4 separate regions of the Homo sapiens genome follow, and regions 1, 2 and 3 are each reported to be linked to region 4. Evidence: microRNA targets listed by miRTarBase, many of them from high-throughput screens and not tested one by one. Region 4 holds a microRNA gene; each other region holds the end of a gene's coding sequence.
Evidence for each region. Region 4 holds the annotated microRNA hsa-miR-302d-3p (UAAGUGCUUCCAUGUUUGAGUGU, at 4,740-4,762, opposite strand). A microRNA usually pairs through its seed, bases 2 to 8, with sites in the 3' UTR of a target mRNA and lowers its output. Matches are read on the target gene's strand: a 7mer-m8 pairs with bases 2 to 8, a 7mer-A1 pairs with bases 2 to 7 and ends in A, and an 8mer does both.

Region 1 (7,000 bases), not on the chromosome of region 4:
GCCGAGATGGCAGCAGTACAGTCCAGCTTTGGCTCGGCATCAGAGGGAGACCATGGAAAGAGAGGGAGAGGGAACTCCTGGGCTCAAGTGATCTTCCCACTCCAGCTTCTGAGTAGCAAGGACTGCAGATGAGCACCATCATGCCTGGCTAATTTTTTTATTTTTTGTAAAGACAGGATCTTGTTATGTTTCCCATGCTGGTCTCGAACTCCTGGCCCTATGTGATCCTCCTGCCTCAGCCTTCCAGTGATTAACACAGACATATACACCAATGGAACACAATAGAGTGCACAGAAATGAATATGCATATGGTCAAATAATCTTCAACAAAGATACCAAGACCACACAATGGGAAAAGGACAGTCTCTTCAACAAAGTGTTGGGAAAAACTGAATATCCATATGCAAATAATGAAATTGGGCCCTTACCTTACACGGTATACAAAAATTAATACAGAATGGATTAAGATCTAAATGTAAGATTTTAAACTATAAAACTCCTAAGACTGCTTTTTCCCTCCAACAGTGGTGCTGTTTCTGGATGGATCATATCAGAAGGCACATGATGTTGATATGTCCCATTACTAATGATGTTAACTTTTCCTGAAATAAGGTGATATCTACCAGTTCCTTTCACTATAAAGTTAGTATTTTCTCCTTTGTAACTAGTAACTATTTTGTGGAAGGCTATTTGGAGATTATATTCTGTTCTTCACAAATTTTCACCTGCTAGTTTTGCCATTCACTGTTAGGCATTGCCTAAGTCAATGATTACTGTAATAATATGCCAAATAGTGGCTTTTTAATTCCATTTTCTTTCTACATTTAATAGCTGGCATTCTACTCTAAGAAAGAGCTTTCCTTTTACCCTCAATGAGTCATGTGTTTATATTAATACATACTAAATCAATAATATGTAGAATACATATTCCTAATTCTTGGGAGATTCCTGTGAAGTATTTAGAAGACAGGGTCACAATGTCTGCAGCTAACTCGGATGTTTCAGCAAAATAACAGTGTAACAAACACACACACACACACACACACACACACGTGGTATTAAAGCAAATATGGAAAATTTTACCAATCATTCAATATAGGAACAATCTAGGGAGATCAGTGTACTATTTTGCAGCCTTTTTGCAGATCTCAATTTTTTCAAAATGTAAGGTAAAAAATATATAGATTTAATTGAAACACCATCCAAACCTTCACCAATATTTGAAAAAAAAATTCAAATAAGCCCACAGATTTAATTTATTAGCACTTAAATATATTCAGATTTTATTACCATCGTCTATAGAAATTTAACACTAGCCATCTGTGCAACTGTCCTCTGAGGCAGAGGAACACCATACGCAAATATTACACACTAAGAACAGTACCACATTCGACAAGACTCTTTCTTGATTCAGTAAACCAAGCTTGACAAACCGGCCAACCCAAGGTGAATGATTACAGTTATAGGGTACAGGGGAAATTATCACCTAGTGAATATTACAAACAATATTAAAATGTTACACAGACTTACAAAAGTTCTGCTTTTTTTTTTCCCTAAGACTGTATGTATATGTGTGTGTGCGTACACAGGTTCACAATATGGAAACCTGTACCTTACAGCACTCTTGAGGTTTCAGCAAAGCATACATTATAGACATATTTGCCATACAGTGCAATTTTATTGTATAAGCCATGAATAATAGTGCACTTAAATCCAAGAGTCACATTCAAATATTATCAAGAGAACAATCCAAATACCCGGCTATTGAAGAAATACACATTCTTTGTTTTTATAAACTAAGTTCTGCAACTACAACATTTTTTTGTGTAGATGGTATTAGATCAGTAAGGTTTTAAACAATGAGATTTAGGGTGCATTTTGTAGAATAATTCACCTCTCCAAAGATAACGTGCATTTTAAAAGTGAAGCAAATGTCTTGGCCAGACAAACACAGGCAGTGTTGTACAACTCAGTTTTATTACAAATCACAAATATAGTTAATCCTTAGACCTGCAGACGGTTAAAGAGAATGGCTCTAGAAGTCAGTAAACTCTCATCAGAATTACTTTGCAGGACAATGTAGTGTTTACAGTGAGCCTCATTATCTTCCACTAAATTGGGCACAAATTACTGTTCCACAGTGTAGTTCAAGAGCTGGAACATTAAGTTTCTTAAAAAGGATTTAGATAACAGGTTCAGGCATTTTAATATCCAGTCCTAGAATTTCAGAGGGTCTCTTCTGGGACTATTGGTTTAAAGGAAGATGCTGTGGACAGTGGATTATAAAGACCAAATGAAGGTAGAAGTAATTTTATTCAAGAAAATAAAGAAAACTGATACCATAAGAAAGTTATAGTATCAGTATATATTTTATCATCTGAGAATAAATGTAAATGGATAAATGAGTCTTTTTTTTTTTTTTTTTTTGAGATGGAGTCTTGCCCTTTCGCCCAGGCTGGAGTGCAGTGGTGCGATCTCGGCTCACTGCAAGCTCTGCCTCCCGGGTTCACACCATTCTCCTGCCTCAGCCTCCTGAGTAGCTGGGACTACAGGCGCCCGCCACCACACCTGGCTAATTTTTTGTATTTTTAGTAGACATGGGTTTTCACCGTGTTAGCCAGGATGGTCTCGATCTCCTGACCTCATGATCCGCCCGCCTTGGCCTCCCAAAGTGCTGGGATTACAGGCGTAAGCCACCATGCCCAGCCTATAATGTTTTTAAAGATGATGGGTAACATAAAAATACTATGTGGTAATAACTTAGAATACTAGGTCTGGAGGAGGAGAACAGGCCTAGCCCATGTGAAAGAATAAGCAGTAGCTAATCTATGTGGTCTTGAGGTATAGTATAAACCTGGAAAGTTCTCTGAACCTCTTCAGTTCTGAGGGTTGCCCAATTAAAACAACAACAACAACAACAACAACAAAACTTTATCAGATGTACTGAATGACTTCATTCTCTGATAAATTTCAAAGCTTCCAGAACAGAGGATCAACTATTGTAACTATTGCCCATTTCTGGTCCAGGAAATACCTTTCTGATAAAGAGTGCTCATAAAACGCTTGTGTTGTTTTCATTCATTCTATCTAGAAGTGGGCAAATACCAAAACCTTTATCCCAGATTAAGGTCGGATAATAAGTGAACCTGATGACCTACTTTAGAATGACAATTCAAACAGCTATCCCTGAAACCAGACAACTACACGAGTTATGCCTTGAAGCAGATCTTTCAAAGTGCAACGAAACATTACTCCTGTTTTTCACTTGAGGAGACTAAATTATGGTCATATCTTTTCCATGATACTGATTTTTTATTTAACATAAACCAAATACTGACTGAATCAAAGACTAAAACCCCACAAAATTTCATCCTTTAAAACAAAAAGCAATAAAATCCCACCCCTAAATCAGGCCTCAAAGTTCAAAGAAATGTTTAAAAATCCCCCATATGGGATCTGACATGAATGTCTATTATTGTCCCCCCCAAGTCTTCTCAAAAATCACTTTAAAATCTTGCTTTGAGACCCTAAGTTTTCTTGGAAATAAAATACATTTATAGATTGTTTTAAACCTACTGAATTTTACTATTTCTGCTTGCTTTCTTCCCATTTAATAAAATCAAAATAAAAAATTTTGACCAAATAAATATTTATTGAAAGGTCCTGCCACCAAAAAAGCTTCAGGTTTTTAAAAACATATAATCAAACAACAATGTTCTTCTGATTAAAAAAAAAAAAAGTACTTATTTAAATCTGAGGATCCTTATATGTTCAATAGAGGATTGTGGTGATCCTTTGTATTTTAAAAATATTATTTGTGGGGCCTACTTTACGTATCTCCTGTATAAAAACCAGCTTTCACTCCACATGAATAGAGAAGATGCTGAATACGCAGGAATCTGATTATCCCTCACGTGATTATTACCGGCCCCTCTGGGGCAATCTGCTTGCTCACTCATTCTGCCACCATTCTCTTCATTCAAGTGTTTAACAGCACATTTATCAAAGGCAGCTCTCCGATGCAATGTTTAACGAGTGTCTTCTCAGGAGTGTATCCGTGTCATTTATTCTTCTCATCCAGGTAAGCACGAACTTCACAGTACTACTAAAAATCTTCTTCAAATTATATTGATAATGGACTTATTTCTGACCGTTTTTGGATTTGGGAAAACTCTAATATTTGGATTACCAAATAACACTTCTGTAGATGCACTGATACCGAAGTTTATTTTTACAACCTGTAAACAGATCTGAAGTTTGAACAATCCCTAATTATAAATTAATACTAAAATGCAAACTTGCCAAAACAGTATAGATTGTTGTCTCAGTGAGACAGAGAAAACGAAATGCGAATACCGTGTTATGACTGTACTCTGGCTCGCACAGCAAATGTGCATCAGGAAGATGGGTCTACCTTGATGGTACATCATCCCTCCATGACCAGACCTAATACAAACTCCCTCACAAGTTTCCACCCATGGAAGCCCTATGGCCGATCAACAGAAGCAGTGGGAGTCACTTCTGGCTTTTTCTTTACTTAGACACAGGGTCTCGCTCTGTTGCTCAGGCTGGAGTGGACTGATGCGATCATAGCTCACTGCAGCCTCAACCTCCTAGGCTCAAGGGATCCTTCTGCCTCAGCTTTCCTAGTGGCTGGGACTATAGGCACACACCACCACACCAGGCTAATGGGAGTCACTTCTAAAGAAAACTCTCTAGATGGTTTTCCTTATATGCCTGTTAGCTGAGAAGAAAAGCCTCCTTCATATACAATCTTGAGACAAAAAGAGAAGAAAACAAAAAGCTCAGCTGTATTAACAGACATAGCAAGCAATTCTGAGGGAGCACAAAAAAGTGAGGCTGTTTCCTTTTTTTTTTTTTTTTTTTAACAAAACTAAGATGGACATTTCACACAACGCAGAGCTACGAGAACATCTCTTATGCTCCTTGCCATGGGATTTTAATGCCCCAAGGTTCATAACTACAGCAAAGAAAGTAAGTCAAAAATAAACTGAGCTTAAAGAAGGTGGCAGGCCAATTTTCCCAAAAAGACTGTGGACTGTGGGCTGCTGTGTAGCCTTTGCTACAAGGCTGAGGAAGCAGAAGAAAGATGAATTGGGCAATTGGTGATGAAAAGTATTTGCCATTTTCAAAGGCTTCTCAGTGTGGCCATAGATTTTGCTAGTCAATTTTTAAAAAATTATATTTTTAGCTCAACACACAGCTCTAAAGCAGGGTTCAGTGTAGTGTGTTCTCTACCGAAATGGTTATATACAGATGGTATGGAAATGGTTTTAAAGATTACTCATAAACTATCCTTTTAAAGAAAAACTAGACTCGGTCATATTTGTTAAAATGAGCAATGTCACCAAACAGAAATGTAGGTGGGAAATACTGAACCACAAACATTTGGAGTTGCAGGCATAGACTAGCAGAGCATGAATAGTCATCACTGTTTCTATAATACTGAAACACTCAAATCTGTTTCTGAGGTTTAAAACACAGAGCTATATTATATTCATAAACTTCCCCCTCCACTTAAGTTATATTTGCCTAACACATAATGGACAAATCAATAGAGCCAAAGCAAATTTGCAAAAGGCTCAGGTCAACATGAAAATTTTAACCTTAGTATTAGGAAACTCTTAGAATACTTACAAATTAAAAAAACACACAATAAAACACACATACACATATAAACCAGTGCAATAAGAACTTTAGACAAGGGCAGTGCATCTCTGGTTTAAGAAAACCTATTTGTAGCTTGATTATAATAAATTAACTCTATTCTAGATGATGGTTTAATTTTACAAGCAGCATTTGAAACACATTGTATATGTATGCTCAAAACCTGAAAACCAATTCACCAGTAACAATTCTCAATCAGTAACAAATTCCTACTTTAATTGTATATTGCACATACTTTTAGTGTCTACGTTAAAATAAATTTAACTCTTCTTAATGTAAATATCGGAGGACCATACCTGTTGCCCTTGTAGAAATAATTTACCTTGAATAACAGATTTTCCTTTCTTGACAAACAAGAATGAGAATAGATTTCAGCTTCGTTAGTCCAAAACTATTTTAAAGAAAATGGCTATTTTATGTGGCGAAGACACTGGAAATGGATTGTTAAACACAAAATCCTTGGTTTATCCATTGTTGCCATTTTGAAAAACATTTCTATGGTCAGAGTGTTTAAAAGTCTGACCCTTTTTTTAAACCACCAAATAGTCCCTAGAGAGATTAGCTGTCTCCTTGACTGCTCTAGAATGCTGTTTGGAGAGTGGACACAGAGAAAAAGCTTTGGATAAAATGGCATGAAACACAAATGGCATTAAATAGGTCATCTATTTCACGTAAAAATAAAATGACTAGCACCTCCTTCCGGCTCCCAAAGTGACAGGCCCTAACAGGCCACATGAAACATGGTTTATGATAGTAAGTTTCATTATTCATACAGTATTGAGAAATCCATTACATTAGGGGGGTCCCACATCTAAAGCCTTCACTTCAAGGCTACCGTGTAAAAGTGAACTGAAGGGCACAAGGAGAGAACGGCGGACACAGGCCCAAGAAGGTCCTTGCGAAGGGTGCGAGGAGACCTTTCAGGGACTCTCCTGCATCCCGTCCTCTGTTTCCAGTTCTGCCAACTGCCTTCGAAGGATATTGACTTTTGCTTGTAATTCTTTATTATATTCAATGATGTTAACCATTTCTTCATATGCTTCATCCAAATACTTAGAGGATCTATTCCAACGTAGGAAAATACCTATTGAATCCAGGAATGGAAAACAGAAGCAAGAAAGGTATATACAATGGATTAAAATTACATTTGTGGATAAGATGTAATTTATGTATTATACATTCTTTTTTCTTTTGTTGCCACAACTCACATCTGTATTTTATTATACTCTAAAATATACAGGAATCTTGAGGTACTGAAAAGGATGCAATTGAATACAATATTTGAGAAGTCACTACTTGTATGTACATGCTC
Region 2 (7,242 bases), not on the chromosome of region 4:
GGAAGGGCAGAATTTGAGCCACTTAAAAAAAAATTTAATAACCTTTTTCCTTTCCAATTTTCAAGATTATAGACTTTTTAATTGAATTTATCTGTGTATTTTATTTTTTAATTTTTTTGAGACAGAGTCTCACTCTGTTACCCAGGCTGAACTACAGTGGTGCAACCAAGGCGCACTGCAGCCTGGAACTCCTGGGCTCAAAGGATCCTCTCATGTTAGCCCCTCCTTCCTATAGTTGGGACTACAGGTGTATGCCACAATGCCTGGCTAATTTTTACATTTTTTGTAGAGATAGGGTCTCCCTATGTTGCTTAGGCTGGTCTGGAACTACTGGGCTCAAGCGATCCTCCCACCTCAGCCTCTCAAAGTGCTGGGATTACGGGTGTGAGCCACCGTACCCTGTGGACTTTATTTTTAGAGCAGTTTTCTAGAAAAATTTCACAGAATGTGGTTCTCATATACCTGCTTTGCCCCTGCATGCAGTTTCTCCTATTAATAACATCTTGCAATCATGTGGTAGATTTGTTTGTTTGTTTGTTTGTTTGTTTGTTTTCTGAGAGGGAGTCTAGCTCTGTCGCCCCAGCTGGAGTGCAGTGGCATGATCTTGGCTCACTGCAAGCTCCACCTCCCGGGTTCATGTGATTCTCCTGCCTCAGCCTCCCAAGTAACGGGGATTACAGGCACCCACCACCATGCCCGGGTAGTTTTTGTATTTTTTTAAGTAGAGACGGGGTTTCACCATGTTGGCCAGGCTGGTCTCAAACTCCTGACCTCAAGTGATCCACCTGCCTCGGCCTTACAAAGCGCTGGGATTATAGGCGTGAGCCACCGTGCCCGGCCTCTCTTGGTACATTTGTTGCTTGACAAACCAATAGTGATGTATTATTATTACTAACTGAAGTCAACGTAAGTTATAGTTCACTGTGCGGTGCATTCTGTGGGTTTTGACAAATGCATGCCATGTCCCACCATTACGTGTCACACAGAATATGTTCACCGCCCCGACCGCCCTGAGTCTTCTCTGTTCTCCTTCCGTGTTCATTCCTCCCCTCTTCCGGGTTCGTGTCTTTTAAGCTCATTGGGGCTGCCGTGAGGAAGCTGGGTTGTAGGGCAGAATAATGAAGGCAGGAGGGAGCTGGCTGGCCCCGAGCGTGCAGGGGAAGGAAGGGGAGGGCACGGGCCCTTCGCGCCTCTGACCCCCCTTGCCTCCACTCGCCCAGGGCTGCGCTGCTATGCCAAATTCCACCGGAACCGCAGGGTTACACGGAGGAAAGGGCGCTGTGTGGAGCCCGAGACGGCCAACGGCGACCAGGGATCCTTCATCAACGTCTAGCGGCCCCGCGGGACTGGGGACTGAGCCCAGGAGGTTTGCACAAGCCGGGCGATTTGTTTGTAACTAGCAGTGGGAGATCAAGTTGGGGAACAGATGGCTGAGGCTGCAGACTCAGGCCCAGGACACTCAACCCCAGGAGGGGAGCCGCTCGGCGAATGAGCTGGGTGGGTGCCCAGGAGCCGGCCCGCAGCACCTGCACACACGAAGTCCGGACCCACGCAGCCTCCATCCCGCGTGTCTTGCTCTCCGCGATGGCAATGCCGAGAGTGCCCTCTACTGTCCGACTCCAGCACTGCAACAGCTTCAAGTTCAAAACCAAGAGGCGTTTTTGAGAGTGGAAAAGAAATTTAAACTTCCCGAAAGAAGGTCCACCATCAGGAGATGAATATGGAACATCTCCTATGTACCAGGCACTGTGCTAAGTGCTGGAATACATTATCTCATTGAATTATCACAACGACCTTTTCAAGTAGGCATTATCACCATGCGACAGGTTGAGGACCGTGAGGCACGCTGGAGTTATTTGACTCGACTTGCCCAGGGTCCCAGGTCAGTGCTCCTCAAACCTGAACATGCTAAGAGTCACCTGGAGGTCCAGTTAAAAATGTACATCTGGCCGGGCGCGGCGGCTCACGCTTGTAATCCCAGCACTTTGGGAGGCCAAGGCGGGTGGCTCACCTGAGGTCAGGAGTTCGAGACCAGCCTGGCCAACATGGGGAAACCCCGTCTCTATTAAAAATACAAAAATTAGGCCAGGCGCGGTGGTGCACACCTGTAATCCCAGCTACTCGGAGGCTGAGGCACCAGAATCGCTTGAACTTGGGAGGCAGAGGTTGCAGTGAGCAGAGATCGTGCCACTGCACTCCAGCCTGGGGGACAAGAGTGAAACTCCATCTCAAAAAAAAAAAAAAAAAAAAGCACATCTGACTCAGTGGGCTCTGTGCTCTAACAAGCTCCCAGGGAACGCGAGGCTGCTGGCCCAGGGACCCACTGAGAGGTCCTGGGAAGTACATGGCAGAGCAAGGACATGAACCTGGGCCAAGGCTGTCCAGCTCCAAGGCCCACGTTCTTGCTGCTCCACAGCCAAGAATTTCTTCCAGATTCTCTAAGGCTTTTGGCAAGAGAGGCTCACACCCTGGTATTCCCTTCCTCTGTGGCTGGAATAACTTGACTGTTCTCTGCCTTCCCTGGATAAAGGTGTATCATGTTTAAAAACAAAACAAAATACAACTTAAGCACATACTTGCTTGCAGGAATAAGTTGGGCAGGTTGATCCCTGTGGTCTAGTAGCTGATATCCTGGGATAAGAAGTGTTTGGGGAAAAGAATCATGTTGGCCTTTATGTCCCTGTGGTCCTGATCATCCAGTCCTGGACAGGCACTTTACAGTTTTCTGGAGCACTTCCCCCCCAGGGGTTCTGATGCAAGCATGGAATCCAAAAAAACCCCACACATATTGCCCATGTTTACCCACTTTGCATACTGTTTAGTGATTTCCAGGACCACAAAACCATCCCTGGAACCCCACCCCACATTTTTGCAGCAGAGCCCACTGGGAAGTTGAGGCTCACCTGAAATTGAGGTGCTATCTGAAGCTAACTGCCCCTAACAGGCCAGACTCACAATGCCCACCCAGGACATCTGTCCCAGCAGATCTGGCTTCAGGGGTCACTTCAGGAGAACCATTTAAATCCCCCCACTTGGCATCTCACTCCTGGCCAACCCTCTGTTCCAGGGCGAACCAGGTTGCAAATGACAAAAGACTTTCCTGGCCAAATTCCTCACTGGCCTGGATCACGCCCATAAGATGCCAGAGATGTTTACTGCGTTGGAAAAATCAGTCGGGGTCAGGGGTCAGGCACCAAGGAAAGCAGGCAGATCTAGAAGAAATTAAATATGCTTGTTCTCTCCCTATCCAAGTTTGATGGGCATGGGAACCTTGTGGGGAGGGAGCAGGGAGGGCAGGGGAACTGGGAGATCAAAGCAGGCTAGCTGAAAGGCAGATATGGCTAGACACAATGGCTCATGCCTGTAATCCCAGCACTTTGGGAGGCTGAGGTGGGCGGACCACCTCAGGTCAGGAGTTTGAGACCAGCCTGGCCAACATGGCAAAACCCGGTCTCTACCAAATATACAAAAATTAAGGCTGGGCACGAGGGCTCATGTCTGACATCCCAGCACTCTGGGAGGCCGAGGTAGGCAGATCACTTGAAGTAAGGCGTTCGAGAACAGCCTGACCAACATGGTGAAACCCCATCTCTACTAAAAATACAAAAATTAGCCAGGCATGGTGGCAGGTGCCTGTAATCCCAGCTACTCAGGAGGCTCAGGCGGGAGAATCACTTGAACCCAGGAGGCGGAGGTTGCGGTGAGCCAAGATCACGCCATTGCACTCCAGCCTGGGCGACAGAGTGAGACTCCAAAAATATAAAACACTTAAAAATGTAAAAAGGCAGATCTGCCAGCAGCTTCGTACTTGAGACCAGACAACCCACACATGCTGTGTGTGCCTCACATTAAGTGGTGACTCGGGACTGTGCTGGCTCTGTGGGGCTAGAACCCTAAGGAGTACCGCCGGAAGAAAGCCCAGCATTACTATGGCTGGGGGACAGCTGTTAGATGGTCCTAGGACATCAGCCATGGAGAACACAGAGGGTCAGGACAAAGCTAAAATGCCCATAGAACTGCCACTGGTTGCCAGGGTAGTTCCATGGTTGGAAATTCAAGGCCCGTCTCTTTGCCCTAGCTATCTCTATTTGACATTTCCAAAGAGGGATGGGTGGATGGAACCTCTTAACTCCAGAGCTGGGAATCCCAAAGCCCTCTCAAGTGTCTAACCAACCTCTCTGCCAGGAAGTTCTTCCTTAGGTCTATCTTAAATTTATTTTGCTCATACAGAAGCCAGTTTCCTCTAATCCAGGGTTTAGCAAACTTTTACTGTGAGGAGCCAAATAAACATTTTAGGATTTGCAAGCCATCTGATCTCCACCAGCTACTCAGCTCTGCCGTAGCTCGAAGCAGCCACAGAGAGTGTGTAAATGAATTCATGGCTATGCTCCAGGAAAACTATTTCTGGACACACATGTGAATTCTGTATACTTTTCACATGTCACAAAATATTATTCTCTCTTTCCTTTTTTTTTTTTTTGGAGATGGAGTTTTGCTCTGCTGCCCAGGCTGGAATGCAGTGGCTCAGTCTCAGCTCACTGCAACCTCTTCATCCCAGGTTCAAGCAATTCTCCTGCCTCAGCCTCCCAAGTAGCTGTGACTACAGGCATGTGCCACCACACCTGGTTAATTTTTGTATTTTTAGTAGAGATAAGGTTTTACCATGTTGGCCAGGCTGGTCTCAAACTTCTGACCTCAGGTGATCCGCCCGCCTCAGCCTCCCAAAATGCTGGGATTACAGGTGTGAGCCACCGCACCTGGCCATAAAATATTATTAGTTTAATTTTCTAAAACCATTTAAAAGTGCAAAAACTGCTCTTTGCTTGCCAACTGCGCAAAACCAGGCAGTGGGGCAGATTTGGCCTGAGGGTCACGGTTTGCCAACCCCTGCTCAAGCCTGCTCACTCTCAACGCTGGCTGCACGTTGCAATAATCCAGGAACATTCACAGGCCTGGGGCCCACCCACAAAGCTTCTGTTTTGTTTGGTCTGGGCTTCATAGTTTTTCTCCCAGGTAACTTCAGGTGCAGCTGGGGCGGAGAGTCTCTGCTCTCCCCTTCCATCTGTAGCAGTGTGGCTGGTGTTAAATCCACCTATTCCACCTCTCACAGCTTTGGCAACCTTAGGAAAGTTTCTTAAGGTCTCTGTGCCTTGATTTTTTCATCTGTAAAATGGGAATAATAACTCTCCCTTCATAGGGTTGTTGTGAGTAGTGAATGCATACTTCTTTTTTTTTTTTTTTCTTTTGAGACAGAGTTTCACTCTTGTTGCCCAGGCTGGAGTGCAGTGGCACGATCTCGGCTCACTGCGACCTCTGCCTCCTGGGTACAAGTGATTCTCCCGCCTCAGCCTCTCGCGTACCTGGGATTATAGGCAAGCATCACCACGCCCGGTTACTGTTTGTATTTTTAGTAGAGATGGGGTTTCACCATGTTGGCCAGGCTGGTCTCAAACTCCTGACCTCAGGTGATCCCCCCGTCTCAGCCTCCCAAAGTGCTGGGATTACAGGCATGAGCCAGCATGCCTGGCCTGTGAACGCAGAATTCTTATAAGGTGTTTAGAACAGTGCCTAGCACCTAATAAACCTCCAGTGTTAGCTAATTTGTTATTCTAGGAGAATTTTAGATGTCGGTTCTTTGACAATGACCCATCACATACTCTGAGATCATTTCTAAGTCACCATTCAAGCTCCTTCCCCAAAGTGTGTTCCATAGAACACTGGGACCATGAGATGCTCTATTAGAAAGGGTCAGGGTACGGTTCCATGGTCAGAGAGGTTTGGAAAACTGTTCTGGCCTCAGCCCTTGGCAGCATGTGCAGATTCCAGGCACCGAGGCAGGGCTGGAGGAGTAAGTGGCTTTGCAATAAAATGGGTGCTGGAGTCTAAAATGATACCCTGGGTGGAGTGGGGGAGCTGAGCAGGAGGCCAGGTGGCAACCAGTAGCTGCTGGGCCCGTGGCCTGAACCCTCCTGCACTCCTCCAGCTGGAGTCTCACCGCGGATCCCAGGAATACCTGCTGTTCCCACAGGGCTGCCTTTCCGTAGTTTGTCTGGAGACACCAAGAGTGGTTTCCATGCCTGCTGGGAATAGGCTGAGCATGCAATGACATGAGGGCCAAGGCTTGTGGGAAAATGACAGCTTCACAGCCCCTTGAGGAGTGACCAAGCCACAAAGTAAATCCTAAAGCCACAACCCCTTCTACCACTGAGCTGCTGGAGGTGGGTCCTTATTTCAAGCCATATTCAACCCACCCAACAAAACCTAACATTGAGGTGGTGGGCACACGGCCCCTGCCGTGGGGCTCACTCTGCAGCTGGAGAGACAGCATACCTGAAACCTGCAAGGAACCGGTTTATAAAACAACAGAACAGCCAGGAAAATGGTGCTAGGAGAGACAGTGGAGAGGCCAGAGAAGCAAACCACTGTGGCTCCTCACTGGGGGTTTCACGGGGTTGGACTGAGCCCTGTCACCTCTGTGATAGTCTTCACTCTGACAGGCAATGGTGACTGTGTGTGTTTCCTGGGGAGGAGGTTAGCAGGGACGGTTGCCTTTCCTGGGAAGGGCAGTTTGCAGAACCAGGGGTTTATATTGCAGGGAGTGTATTTTCTGAATTCTAAGTCAGAACAAGCAGTCTGATACAGGATCCATGGCTGGGTCACTTCTGGGTGCAAGAGGCTTTCTAGACCTTAGACACTCAAGATTACGGTCCCGGGCCAGTAACAGCACCTGGGAGCTTGGTAGAAATGCAGAATCTTAGCCTAGGCAACATAGGGAGACCTCATCTCTGCAAAAAATAACAAAATTAGCCGGGCATGGTGGTGCACACCTGTAGTCCCAGCTATTCTCCAGGCTGAGGTGGGAGGATCGCTTGAGCCCAAGAGGTTGAGGCTGCAGTGAGCCATGATCGCACCACTGCACTCCAGCTTAGGCAATACAGCGAGACCTTGTCTCAAAAAAAGACAAAAAAAACAAAAAGAAATGTAGATTCTTGGGCCCCACCACCCCACGCCTACTGAGCCAGAATCTCTGGGGGTGGGGCCCAGCCATTTGGCTTTTCACAAGTTCTCCAGGTCATTCTTGGGCACGATCAAATTTGAGAATCACAGGTCTAGGATACGACGGGGAAAACAGAAATGTGGGGTGGTCAGGGACATTCGGATAATTCGGGCTATTTGTATTCAGGTGTGAGCTGGCAAATCCGAGACCTGTTTTGCGTAGCTAATTACCAGCAATGACAAACT
Region 3 (7,203 bases), not on the chromosome of region 4:
TGAATCAAGCAGACCTCAGAAGCCCTGCTCCACCATCTGTGAAAACATTGCCAGTAACCCCTGGAGAAGTATCCAGAAGAACTGCTCATATTAAACGAACTAGGTGTGACCAAAACTGCATATATGGCTCCGGTGAATTTCCAAGGCATACAATACAAGATCAAAGAGGAAATAGTTCTGGAATTATGCAAGGGACCAAGAATTCATGAGTCAGGAGTGTGTTAAAAAAAGCATTGTAGGGATATAGAAAATCATCCAGAATGAGCGGTACAATTAAGAAGAGAGAGAAAATATGATCACAGGACCTCAACAGACCTTTGTTGATTTTCTCAGAAGATAGGAAAAAAGAAACTGAAGGAAAGCTGCCGCCAACTTTTCCCCCTCCATTGTGCCTAGATGGGGGGAGAAGGGGATGTAAACAGCAGGGCAGGGTTCAGGTAGGGTGACTAGCCCTCACTGGTTCCCAGGGACTGAGGGGTTTTCTGGGACACAGGACTTTCAGTGCTGAAATCAGGGCAGTCCTGAGCAAACCAAGATAGTTGGCCACCCTGGCTTCAGGCCAGAAGGAAGGCTTCCTGGAACTGAACAATTTGGCAGTGGAATAGAAAACAACTTATTTACTATTTAATTTGAGTCTGATAGATGAAATTAAAATCTGTAAGTGATGATTTCCCACCCTGAGTGCTCACATGCTTAACCCTTTAATTTCTGGAGGGATTTCAGAATCCCTCTTAGCAAGCAGTGATTTCTGATAGGACCATTCAATGTAGCCCCATGGTTTGGAGGGGAAATGTTAAGATCAAAAGGAGTGGATATGACACACAGAGGGATATCATAATAACTCAGGACAGGCTGCTGGGGTCTTTTGAGGCTAAAGGACCATCTCTGCAGACAGGCAGGGCCCAGTCTTGGAGGTCTCTATTAAGAACCTTATGGGCATGTTTTTTGTGGCCACATGGTGGGAAACTGAAGTGCCAGGGCCTCCCCCATTTACATGCTGCCATTGTGAGCAGTCTGTGCTCCTTAACATATGCTGATCCTGCTCTCTGCTGAGACCCTGTGTGAGCTCTTGTCTCTGCCTGGAATTTACTTTTGGTCCAACCAATGCACACACACACACACACACACACACACACACACACACACACACACTCCAGAGCTCAGCCGAGACATCATTTGCGGTGCTTTTCCTATGGTCACCTAAGCTCGCTCTTGAATTTTAGGAGCCCCCATCACGATGTGGTATCATTGCCTCTGCTGGTCTGTCTTCCCCCAATCAGTTAGGGCAGCAGTTAGGTTATATCTTGTAATATAACCTACTGCCAGGTACAGGGTAAATGTGTAATAATCATTTGAATGACAGGGAGGAAATCCTCCTCTTGTTAGGTATTCTTTGCTACATATATAATCACTTTTTCCCAACAACTGCTAGTTCCTGGGTGTGAGTCAAATCCACAACATATTATGTTAGATAGAGGATATTCTGTAACAGTGAGCAAGGAACTAAGAAAAAGATAGGTACTGAGCACAATTGCTGAATATGACAGGTTCTGGTCTGGTCTATCTTTTCTTTCTTTTTTTTTTTTTTTTTTTTTAGAGACAGAGTCTCTCTCTGTTGCCCAGGTTGGAGTGCAGTGGCACAATCATGGTTCACTACAGCCTTGAACTTCCGGGCTCAAATGATTCTCCCACCTTGGCCTCCCAAAGTACTGGGATCACAGGCATGTAGCACTGCACCCAGCTATCCTTTTTTTTTTCTTTTTTTTAAGCAATAATTTTAATTGTTCCTTCCCTTCACCTCCCAGTTTCTGTCCTTACACGCTCACATCCTCTAGAGCTTGGCTATAAAAGTTAACGAGGTAGCAGTTGCAAGCATTAGCAAGATGCTTTCGGCAGTTTGCCAAAAGCCAGGGAGCCCATCTTGAAAAGAACGTAGTCACCCCCTGCCGTCATGCCCTGACTGCCCAGCATTCTGCGTGAGTGGCAAAGCCCAACTCAGGAACACAAAGCAAAAGACAGCACAGCACACACATGAACTTTTGCCACTTTTGTATTTTATTGTGGAACTGAGTTTTTTTTTTTCCTTTACATCAAATATCCTCAATGGAAGAGGGGATATTGCACACAAATATCATAAAAGCACTACATATTACTTTCACTGGAAACTAATTTTCTACATTAGATATGACTGGATAGGATAGAAGTGATGCAGGATTATAAGACATAATACCATACACAGCTGCAGACTGACACAAACACCATTCAGAACAAGAGAGAGGAGTGTGAAGTGCTTCTCAGCTGGGCTCAAGACCACTTCTTTCCAGTGCTGGAAAGAGGGGCTGCATGCAGTGTAGGAAAAGCGTGTCTCTGAACTGCCACAGGGTGTTCTCGAAAGGGCAGCCCGGTCTTGATGCCACTTCTCCATGGCTCCTGTTTTGGGGAGCTCCAAACAAGTGCAGAGAAGCTGCCTATTTTTTCCCTTCCTTTTCAGTTTTTGATGCTGCCTTTAAAAATCAACTTCATGAAGTCACAGATTTTTTAACAGTAAATAGTTTTAATACCAGGTGAATAACCTAATTGCTTTCAAAGAAATGCTCATCCCTAGGCTGCTTTTGGTGTATTGTTCAGTTGGTTAAAAGATAAAAGCTTACAGTTCCTTTCAAATGGAAACAGGATCTTTTCTTCTAAATCTGAAGCACAAAAAAAAAAAGTTATTATCCTAACTCACAATATCATTACTGAGCAGGAACCTCCTGTGACAGGTGACTAAAGAGAGGCAAGAAAAGCAAATTCAGAATTGTAGAGCAGCTCCTAAGAGCTGAAATTTGGTAACAGAGGGAAAATGAAAGGTGGTAAGATTTCCATTAGCAAATGATTAAATCTTAATTAAATGAGTATTGGAAAGCTCCTAGACTGCATAAGCTATTGGAGACACTTAAAACATTCATATACACTGGGGAAACCATTCACTATGATATGTAACGTTAAGAAAAAAAATTTTTTTGAACTCCATGGAAAATGGTGTTTAAAGAGGGGAGGAGGGGAAGTTAGTCATTGTATCCAGTCCCACCACAAGACTGAGAAAGCATGCACAGGGCTCAGGGTTTTGAGAAAGGGGACAGAATTGGTTAAAATTGAAAATGGAGGATCATCGCTAACATTTAGTCTCTGTAGAATTTTGTTTAAGAATACTACCAAAAAGGTCATGATCATGAGTGCTATCTCGATAGAATCCCATCATTTAAACAGAGTGTAAATTCCTTCCACTCAAATATTCAATCTATACAATTGGATTAAGTAATCAGTATGAACAAAGCTCCTAGAAGTCTGTGTCGATCTTTAGCTCTCACCATGAATGTACATGGTACATTGTGATGGCTGTTACTAAACTAATCGTGTATTTATGGAACTAGCAAAATTAGGTTAGTCACACAGGCAGGAAAGGTGTCTGGAAGGACAGGAGCAACCTGTAATGCGAATATTGGTTTTCTTGGTATACTCAGGCTCTGTGGTCATATTGAGAACAACGGATGGAGAAAGGTACTGATAGATTTCATAGGAAAAAGAGCCAGCTGACTAGTGACAGTTTTTACATATTTTTCCCATTAAATCCCATAGCAAAAAAAAAAAAAAAAAAAAAGAGAGAGAGAGAGAGAAAGTGAGGAGGGTGGAGTGGTTATAACTGAAGACTGGCTATAATTCTCCTACAATGTTTATAGTTTTTAAAGCAAAATAATGTTCAGGTTAAATACATTTAATTGTGAAATTGGAAAATAACTTGCATCTTCTGTCAAAGAAAAATCAACCAGAGGTCTGGATTTGGCAAGAAGGCTAAAAATCTGGTTTTCTTCCCACGCATTATGTAGACCAATTCAACTTAAGAGCTAACCATTAAATAATTATCTTGAGTATCTTAGGTTGTGTTATAAAATAAATTTGAAGTAGATGAGTTTATACTCAATGAAATTCATTGGCGTCACAATGACTTTTCCATCATGTGTTAATTTCTTGTACCCTTAATATGTTATTTTCCAAGGACTTGAAAGAAATGGGGTAATAAATAAAAGCTGCATTTCTAGAGAAGCCTAACAAAAATAGAATATTAATTTTCTTTAAAAAATTAAACATTTGAAAAATGTAATTCACAGCATTAAGTAGACTGCATAGGTCCTCAGTGAAAGGACCCTGAAGAAGCATTTTTTTAAACCCTCATCATAGTTAGCAGTGCAAAACATAGACTTATCAGACAAAAATCAACTAAAATGTTAATTTTGAAATAAATAACTAACATAGAAAATAAAATGAGGTCATTGTTCTCTACTCCGTAGATCTTAGAGTCTGCAGGAAATGTAATGTGACAGAGCACAGCACAGTTGTCACGGAGAAGTTTGCCTCATCTGAACACTGGGTGCATTGATCTGCAACTTGAAACTTGATGTCAGTGTTAATCATGATCTGGCTTCCCAGGTTCACAGTTCAATGATGACAATGATGGAAATTTTCTCTAAACTCTACATGAACCGTAGGAGTTGAGAATTCATTTGTTTTCAATGTACTATTTCTTTTATTTTTTTTTTCCAGAAAAGAAAATCCCAAAGCAAATTTGTGCTAGGGTTCTTTGAACTTGGCTCTTTTACCTCATGGTTGAAGATCTTGAAAGAAGTATGTAGGATACCACTGGGTGATGTACTTGTCAAGGCCCTGAAAAGTAGCCTACCATGCCATTCTCCCCCACTCTCAAGTAGCACTTTTATGTTATGGGAATCAAGGGGTGGGAGGTATCATTATTCCTGGTAGTTATGGGTTTTTAATAAATATCATTACTGCAATATCAGACTTCAATCTTGCCAGAACTTCAAAAAACATTATTCAATTTTTGTCTTACGAAACACTTAAAAAAAAAGACTATCACTTGAGAATTTTCTTTGCAATTTCCTGTAAATGAAAACATTTGTTAAAAAGTTCATCTATGAAAAGTTCTCACATATCTTAAAAAAAAAATTCTTCTGTACACTTGTTCCCATAATTATGTTGAAATTAATGGAAAATTTAAAAAGCCAATGTAAGACAAAGGAAGGTAAATACTGTACACTTGCTGAGAACCTCTTCCACCATAAGATTCACTGTTTTCCCAGTTCTGATCATAGAAGCCATTTCAGTCTTGAACTTGCAGTAGTAAAGAAGCTGTGAAAGGCACAACTTGTTTGACTGAGAGGCCACAGGTGCACTGAAGTGGGATTCAACACGCATGACTCAGCATCAAACTGTTGGACCAATCAGATCAGCTTCTAGTACCCCCACACACGCTCACCCACGTGTTCCTTTAAGTATCTATAATCCTATATGGATGTTTTATAAACTTGCTGTCTCACATTAAAAAATAAGTGCATCAAGTATCTTTGTACATTCAAGTCACTTCCTAAGGCAAATTGTCTACCATATGTACTCCCAACTGCTTTGGTATTTGCTTCAGTTAATTGGGGTGGACTTGGGTGTTGCTGCATGCAGGTTAATCGACTCAGAGTGGACTAAGTGGGTGGACAAATGCTGGGAGCATGCCTTAGATCAATCTACTTGTGTGTTTAGAGTCTGAGAGTTCTGAATGGGGCCCAAACCACTTGCATGGCCAGTCTACACTCACTACATTATGTCAGTGTGCAGCCTTCAAACTGAAGGAGCTTAATTAAGATGTGAAAATATCACATGCCCTCATAACAAGTGTTGTTCTTTTTACTTTCTTCTAGCCAACTTGTTTTAGAAAATTAAGACTCTTTTTGATGACTCAGACTGACAAAAATGGAAAACTTTGCCTATGTAGACTAAAGAATGCCTACTGCCTGAGAAAATGCAGACCTAATTGTTGGTTTATTTTCTCCTCCTTACCCCACCCTGCTCTCTCTTTTTCTCTCTGGGTATCTCACCAGAACTCTCTGTCATTACATCTCCTTCTCTTGCATTCCTTTTCTTTCTCATTCTTTCTCTCTCTCTCTCCTGCGTTATCTTTGTGCTCTCACTCTCTCTCACTCTCTCCCGCGCTCTCTCTCTCTCTAAGACAAATGCCTCTACCTAGCAGAAGTCAGTTGGGTTGGCTAGTGCATGGTTTCCAAATGTTCAGCAGAGATGAACTGGGGTAGGTAATTTTGCAGGAATTTGAACCCTATTGTGGAAATACTGTTATTTCCCTTAGCAATCAGCAAAAACTGAGAAATTTAGTGACTTGCATCACCATGACACAGTATAGCATTTGGCAGGTAATTGTTCAGCGACTTAACTAGATGAATTGACTTTTTAGAAAAGGTGATTTCAAATTGAAGAATTTCTGGAAACAAAGTTCAGATCCTGTGGTGTGGCTGGCCTTGGTTTTTACAGTTCAATCTTGCATGCAGGGAAGGATTCATCTTGCATAACCACTGTGCTGCTGCTTGCTAAAACCATGATGTTGAGATCTTGCTGTTTCTCATGGGTCTCCTGGTACCATTCCCTCATCACTTCTGAGTCATGAGTTGGGATCAGTGTCACCTGCAGGGAGAGAAAAAAAAAATAGCTATTTAAGGGCAGAAACAGAAACCATATGAAAAAAATTGAATAGCAAGGTATTAGACCACTGGAAGAAGAAGGGAAATGAGAGAAAACTTTTCTATTTTCCTCAAGAAATGCAAAGGATTTTTCAATGTATATTTTCCAGGAACCAGAATAAAGCTGCAAAGAAAAGCTATTGTTTCTAAGGGAAACTGAAGGCTGGAACCAAAAAGCAATTAATCAGTTTCTCAGTTCTTTACTGTTAAGAGAAGTGCTTCCGTTAGGGTACAATTTTTTGTATTTCCTTTAACACAACTGGTAAGTTTTGCATAAAAGATATTGCATATTTAATCCAAGGATTTTATCGCGCACTTCAAAGCCCTCAAAAGCCCACTCATTGTGAGTAACTAACATTTTGTCCTGAGAACAAAGATCTGCACCTTTACTTTATGTGTGTGGTTGGGGATGGAGGTATGGGGTGGGTAAGTAATGTCCTGAATAGTATAAATTCCATCTAGCATTCAGTAGGGAGCCACTGGGTGCCTCTCATTAGATTTCATATGATTAAATAACAAGTAATTCTATATAATATGATACAAGCACAATTTACTAGGTAATTTTGTACAGAACCACAAATAAAACTTGATAAGCAAAGATCACAGCTGAATTAATAATAGCTGGTTC
Region 4 (7,000 bases):
TTGCATTATTAAATATGATTGTGGGAGGGGACCGCACTGAGGTGACATTTAAATAAACACTTGAAGTAGGAGAGCAAGCTGTGTTATCTCTGGGGATATGTGTTTCAAAGAGAACAGGTTTAAAAGACCCCGTTAGACATTGCTGGGTGAGCTTCAAGAAGTGCAAGGACTGTATGGCTGGAGCTGACAAAGCAAAGGGGAAGAGATACTGAAAGTAACTTGAGGAAGGAGGGGGTTAGAAATTGCTGCCCAAGAAATAAACACTGGGATGAGAAGGCCACTTGAAAAGGCTGATTTATGGCTGGGCGCGGTGGCTCACACCTATAATCCCAGCACTTTGGGAGGCTGAGGCTGGCGAATCACCTGAGGTCAGGAGTTCGAGACCAGCCTGGCCAACATGGTGAAACTCTGTCTCTACTAAAAATACAAAAATTAGCCGGGTGTGATTGGCAGTGGTGCCTGTATTCCCAGCTACTTGGGAGGCTGAGGCAGGGAGAATCGCTTGAACCCAGGAGGCAGAGCTTGCAGTAAGCTGAGATCATGCCACTGCACTCCAGCCTGGGCAACAGAGGAAGACTGCCTCAAAGAAAAGAGAAGAGAAGAAGAAAGAGAAGAGAGAAGAGGCTGATTTCTACAGCTTACCAGTTGAATTCTGCCCCTAGAAAGCAGAAATTAACATTTTAAAAATCAAAATTGCCAGGCGCGGCGGCTCATGTCTGTAATCCTAGCACTTTGGGAGGCGGAGGCGGGCAGATCACCAGGACAGCAATTCAAGACAAACCTGGCAAACATGGTGAAACCCCGTCTCCTACTACAAATACAAAAATTAGCCGGGCATGATGGCATGTGCCTGTAGTCCCAGCTACTTGGGAGACTGAGGCAGGAGAATTGCTTGAACCCGGGAGATGGAGGTTGCAGTCAGCCAAGTTCACGCCACTGCACTCCAGCCTGCACAACAAAAGGGAAACTGTCTCCAAGAAAAAAAAAAAAAGCGAATACAACTTCTCTGGGGTGGGGCGGGGGCGGGGGGGTGTTGCGATGGAGAGGAGGGGGTGTTGCGATGGAGAGTGTCCACGTCCCTTAATCTTACACTTTTCACTTACTGACTTAAAAGTGCAGCTTAGTGAGATAAAGGTGTAATTTTTTATATTATTCTAGGATAATCTGGCCCTGTGTTTTAAAAGGTACAAAGAAACTAAAGCTATGATCCCTAACATAGAAGGTAAATTATTTTTAAATTTAATTTATTAAATATAAAAATGAATGTTCTTTCTGTTTGTCTTCTGATGGCCAAATGTGAGTCCATTATTCTCTCAGACAGTTAAAGGCTAATCTAAATATTTAACTATATTAGCTATTGTGGTGATTTAAATATTTACATCTTTTTCTTGTAATTCACAGGAATGGAAACTGAAAGTGGAAATCAGGAAAAGGTAATGGAAGAAGAAAGCACTGAAAAGAAAAAAGAAGTTGAAAAAAAGAAACGGTCACGAGTTAAACAGGTGCTTGCAGATATTGCTAAGCAAGTGGACTTCTGGTTTGGGGATGCAAATCTTCACAAGGATAGATTTCTTCGAGAACAGATAGAAAAATCTAGAGATGGATGTAAGTTTGCTTCAGTAAAGGAACCAATTTTTAGATATGGTTGCCTTTAAATTTACTTATAAAATAATATATTCTTTTTTTTTTTTTTTTTTTGAGTTGGAGTCTTGCTCTGTTGCCCAGGCTGGAGTGCAGTGGCATGATCTCAGCTCATTGCAACCTCTGCCTCCTGGGTTCAAGTGATTCTCCTGCCTCAGCCTCCCGAGTAGGTGGGACTACAGGCAAGCACCACCATGCCCGGCTAATTTTTGTATTTTCAGTAGAGATGGGATTTTACTGTGTTGGCCAGGCTGGTCTCGAACTCCTGACCTTGTGATCTGCCCACCTCAGCCTCCCAAAATGCTGGGATTACAGGCGTGAGCCACTACACCCAGCCTAAAATAGTATATTCTATAATGTGTATATTCGTTTCTGTAAGTGTGTTCCGTGTAATCTGTTCTAATTTTTATTTAGTGAATGACAATCTTCTAAATAAAGACTGTTGGTAACAGTTTAGGCTATATTAAATAAGCAATTTCAAATCAAAGCTTTTAAGTATTTTGGGATTTAATTGCTTCAATAACCATTCATCATGTGTAACTCGAGAGTGCTATACTTTAGTTCATACAAGAAGGCATTTCACCTAGCTCAATGTTATTTTTTGTTTCATTTTTTTGAGGCAAGGTCTATCTTTTTTCCCTAGGCAGGAATGCACTGGCTCCATGTCTGCTCACTCCAACTTCTGCCCCCACCTCCACCCCCTCAGCCCCACCCAAGCGATCCTCCATCAGCCTCCCCAGTAGCTGAGAACACAGGCAAGCATCACCAGGCCGGCTTTTTTTTCTGGCATTTTTAAGAGATATGGGGTCCCACCATGTTGCCCAGGCTGGTCTTGAGCTCCTGAGCTCAAGAGATTTACCTTCACCCCTGAATTGCTGAGATAAGAAGCATTGAGCCACCATCCCCAGTTGCTAAATTTCAAATAGCCAACCTTGTGCTTGTTTCTAATAGGATGGGATCCAGATGTCCTCTTTGAATGTCTGGGTATTGCTAATAATTTGTGTTCAAATCTTAATCTGCAGTTACATACACTAAAATGTGTCATTTTAGGTCGCCAAATATGCAATGCCATTTAGACCCTCATACAGTTTTTTTTTGTTTGTTTTGTTTGAGTCTCTTTCTCCCAGGCTGGAGTGATCTCAGCTCACTGCAACCTCTGCCTCCTGGGTTCAAGCGATTCTCCTACCTCACTCTCGAGTAGCTGGGATTACAGGCGTGCACCACTACACCCAGCTAATTCTTTGTATTTTTAGTAGAGATGGGGTTTCACTATGTTGGCCAGGCTGGTCTTGAACTCCCCCATCCACCCGCCTTGGCCTCCCAAAGTACTAGGATTACAGGCATGAGCCACCGAGCCTGAGGGCCTGAGGGGCAGGTTAAATTGTACCAAATTGAATTAATCCTGCTGATACACTAACATATTAACTTTTTCATTTTCTTTAGATGTTGATATATCACTACTTGTGTCTTTTAACAAAATGAAAAAATTGACTACTGATGGGAAGTTAATTGCCAGAGCATTGAGAAGTTCAGCTGTTGTAGAGGTAAGAATCAAGAATAACTACTGTTTATATTTATAGTTTATAATTATAAAGAATGTTAACGTAATGATTATTATATGATTATAGCTTACAATTATAAATAATATTAGTTTTATTAATGTAATATACTATTTTAAAGCTTGATTTGGAAGGCACCAGAATCCGGAGGAAAAAACCTCTGGGGGAAAGACCAAAGGATGAGGATGAACGCACAGTGTATGTGGTAAGCTTAAGAACCCGGGTCCCCAGTCAGAAACTGGCACAGAAACAATATAATTAAGTTAAAAATTTATTGACATTCTGATTGTGAAAAACTCTAATATTGCTTTTAATTTATAATAGGAGTTACTTCCCAAAAATGTTAATCACAGCTGGATTGAAAGAGTATTTGGGAAATGTGGCAATGTTGTTTATATAAGTATACCACATTATAAGTCTACTGGAGATCCAAAGGGATTTGCGTTTGTGGAATTTGAAACAAAAGAACAAGCAGCAAAAGCAATTGAGGTAAGTCCAGATCCTAAAAAAAAAAAAAGAAAGAAAAGAAAACAAGTATTAAAATAGTAACTTTTGCAATCATTTCAGTTTCTTAACAACCCACCAGAAGAAGCACCAAGAAAACCTGGCATATTTCCTAAAACAGTGAAAAATAAGCCCATTCCAGCCTTAAGAGTTGTGGGTGAGTATTTTTCAATATTTAAATAGGTGTAGTTGAAGTAAGATGAACTAATAATGATGGCACTTTTACAGAAGAGAAGAAAAAGAAAAAGAAGAAGAAAGGCCGAATGAAAAAGGAAGACAATATCCAAGCCAAAGAAGAAAACATGGACACAAGCAACACCAGCATCAGTAAAATGAAAAGATCCAGACCCACATCTGAGGGCTCTGACATTGAGTCCACTGAACCCCAAAAGCAGTGCTCAAAGAAAAAGAAAAAACGGGACAGAGTTGAAGCATCTAGCTTACCTGAAGTCAGAACAGGGAAGAGGAAGAGAAGCAGCTCTGAAGATGCAGAATCCCTAGCTCCCCGATCAAAAGTAAAGAAAATTATTCAGAAAGACATCATTAAGGAAGCATCAGAAGCTTCCAAGGAAAATAGAGGTAAAACTACAAGGTTTTAATTAGATAAAACTAATTAATTTTAATTAATTAGTTTTTAATTAATTAGGTTTTAATTGGCTTCTGTTTCACCCATTTCACAGCCCCATGTCTTAACGGAGAGCTTTTTTATTTATTTCAAGATATAGAAATCTCTACTGAAGAGGAAAAGGATACTGGAGATCTAAAAGATAGCTCTCTCTTGAAAACAAAAAGGAAACATAAGAAAAAACATAAAGAGAGACATAAAATGGGAGAAGAAGTTATACCATTAAGAGTGCTATCAAAGTAAGTCTGTGGTTTAAATTCTGTCATTGGCTTAACAATCCATCACCATTGCTAAAGTGCAATTCCAATTTATATTCAACAGAGTTGCATATTAGCAACAGTAATGGCCTGTAGCCAAGAACTGCACACAGTGTGGGCGTTAACGCAATTGCTGATTAGGTAGGAACCACCACACTCAAACATGGAAGCACTTATTTTTGTCATGTCACAGCAAGTGCCTCCATGTTAAAGTAGAGGGGGCCCCTTAACAGATGTAAAAATACAAAATAAAGCTTAAATATATGAGCTGCGGTCAATACAATAAAGTTATTTTCTAAAAAAATAATAAAAATGTAAAAGGAAGACTTACCATCACCAAAACATGGAAGCACTTACTTCTTTAGTTTCAAAGCAAGTACATCCACGTTTAAGTGGTGGGGAGCCCAGTCTTGGAAAAAGTTAGAATCCTTTAACCTGTAACAAGCTTAGTAACCTTAAAACACAATAACAAAAAAATTTTGTAACAAAAGGTGTGCTGGCTTGGAGACACCTCCACTGAAACATGGAAGCACTTACTTTTGTTTCACACAGCAGGTACCCCCATGTTAAAGCAAAGGGGATCCCTTCAAATGAGGTTAGCGTGTTCTATTTTGGAGAAGTAAATTGGATTCACTCCTACTAAAACATGGAAGCACTTACTTTTAAAGTCACAGAAAGCACTTCCATGTTAAAGTTGAAGGGAGCCCACCCAACATACAACTTCTTTGGACTTCAGAGTATTTAGAGCTGAGGAGAAAGAAAACAAAATGGCATAACTTTAGAAGAAAAAAATTTTTTTACCTTCCTGAACTAGTTCCCAAAGATTCGTGTTCTCCTCCAGAAGGGTAAAAGGCAGGGACTTCAGCCACTTCTATTTATACTATTCTTAACTCTTGAATTCCTTTTGCCTTTTTATCTCAGAGAATCATTACAAGGGCCTTTTGTTATTTTAATGTATCAGCTCTCAGGGAATGTATGATCCTGGGTGGGTCTGGATCCTTTTTTTTTTTTTTGAAGTATACAGATGTCAATGTTAACAGCTAAAACCATTACCACAAGATATCTTCCTCTTAAAAAAAAAAAAGAAAAAGAAAAAGAAAATCTCCTATCTGCTTGTTTGATGGCATAGATTAGGGTAACAATGAGTGCTCCCACTGAGCCGAGAAAGGCATTGTGTTTCTATCTGGAGGAACTCTGTTTGAAGAAGCATCTACATGTTAAATGTATGTAAATAAATAGATTGCTTCCACGGGGTGTTTTGTTCTACTTAGAAATTCTTTTTGATTCAAGTAAATACTAAGGAATGTTATCTCTCAAATTGGAAGCAGTTTAACAAATCTTTAATCTCGCCCTTTTCCCACAGAGATGACTGATTTAGTAAATGTTACTAGTTAAGGAATTAATGCTAAAATTTTACTTTTATAAATTAAAATACTTCAGACACTCAAAAATTTAATTGGCAATCTTAAAACATTTAATCTGAATATTGGGGGAAGAGGAACTCCCTTAGCTTATTTTGCTAAATGTCTTTAGAACCTAGGAAATATTTTGAATATGTGTTTAAAGAAACAGGAAAGTTGGTGGAGGAGTTGCTCCAAGTCATTGTGAATGTATATATTTAGATATTTCCCTATTTACTTTTTATATTTAGTCATCTGTTATCACCATTTCTTTCCTTGTAGGAGCGAATGGATGGATTTGAAAAAAGAGTATTTAGCGCTACAAAAAGCTAGCATGGCTTCTTTAAAAAAAACAATATCCCAAATAAAATCAGAGTCAGAAATGGAAACAGACAGTGGAGTACCTCAAAACACTGGAATGAAAAATGAAAAAAGTAAAGATCACTGATAGTTTTGACAACATTATAATGTACTTATATATGTAAATGCTATCTCTGAGTTGTTATAAGATAAATTTTAATTTTAAAAAACTTGATTATTCTATTTCATTATTAGAACAATTCTTGATTTGTTAAGTTATCCAGATGTGTTACTTACTCTTGATATAAGAATATTTAAAAGGCTCATTTAAAACAATTTTTTAAATAACCTGAGTTTTCTCTACAGTTTTCATCAAGCACATGAGTGCAGAGTTTGCAGACTGAGCAAGTTTGTAGGAATGAAGATTGTAGTTTCTCACCTGTTAATTTCATTCTGTAGTATGCACCACAAGCAGGAACAAGTTAAAGCAGAATTCCTATGAATTCAAAATTAGGATACATTTTAAATTCTCATTTCTTGTAAAAATAAATGTTCACGTTTGAATAATAATGTATTTAAAACACAGTATCCTTTAACTTTTTTTTAACTTTATTGAGTAAAAATTTACTGTTCCTTTGTTCAGGGAGAAGGGGCAAATTTAAAGGCTTTACGAATGCTCTTCTAGCAGTAACAATTTGCATGTAGAATAATAAA

Region 1: miRTarBase lists MTMR9 as a target of hsa-miR-302d-3p. Seed matches in the 3' UTR shown: 7mer-m8 at 2,670-2,676.
Region 2: miRTarBase lists DRAXIN as a target of hsa-miR-302d-3p. Seed matches in the 3' UTR shown: 7mer-m8 at 1,980-1,986, 7mer-m8 at 2,730-2,736 and 7mer-m8 at 3,372-3,378.
Region 3: miRTarBase lists MAP1B as a target of hsa-miR-302d-3p. Seed matches in the 3' UTR shown: 7mer-A1 at 5,382-5,388 and 7mer-m8 at 2,286-2,292.

What each region holds. Positions count from the first base shown.
Region 1 is chr8:11,322,397-11,329,396 of GRCh38, reverse strand. It overlaps MTMR9 (myotubularin related protein 9), which reads right to left. Exons shown (of 10, transcript NM_015458.4): 10 at 1,251-6,772. The coding sequence ends at 6,609. MTMR9-AS1 (MTMR9 antisense RNA 1) reads left to right here and starts at 3,969. Exons shown (of 2, transcript NR_189628.1): 1 at 3,969-4,081.
Region 2 is chr1:11,718,364-11,725,605 of GRCh38, forward strand. It overlaps DRAXIN (dorsal inhibitory axon guidance protein), which reads left to right. Exons shown (of 7, transcript NM_198545.4): 7 at 1,221-7,242. The coding sequence ends at 1,333. Among named protein-coding and RNA genes, the nearest start is that of AGTRAP, 14 kb to the right of the region's middle. RefSeq lists an enhancer at 1,381-1,450.
Region 3 is chr5:72,204,400-72,211,602 of GRCh38, reverse strand. MAP1B (microtubule associated protein 1B) reads right to left here. Exons shown (of 7, transcript NM_005909.5): 7 at 2,038-6,519. The coding sequence ends at 6,364. Among named protein-coding and RNA genes, the nearest start is that of MIR4803, 39 kb to the right of the region's middle.
Region 4 is chr4:112,643,267-112,650,266 of GRCh38, forward strand. It overlaps MIR302D (microRNA 302d), which reads right to left and starts at 4,805; the gene lies at 4,738-4,805. LARP7 (La ribonucleoprotein 7, transcriptional regulator) reads left to right here. Exons shown (of 13, transcript NM_016648.4): 2 at 1,402-1,605; 3 at 3,085-3,185; 4 at 3,322-3,405; 5 at 3,525-3,689; 6 at 3,768-3,861; 7 at 3,933-4,283; 8 at 4,424-4,568; 9 at 6,269-6,420. The coding sequence starts at 1,404. It overlaps MIR302CHG (miR-302/367 cluster host gene), which reads right to left and starts at 6,785. Exons shown (of 3, transcript NR_146092.1): 1 at 6,726-6,785; 2 at 5,247-5,333; 3 at 3,454-3,702. MIR367 (microRNA 367) reads right to left here and starts at 4,675; the gene lies at 4,608-4,675. It also overlaps MIR302A, MIR302C and MIR302B. RefSeq lists a silencer at 439-540 and an enhancer at 5,605-6,327.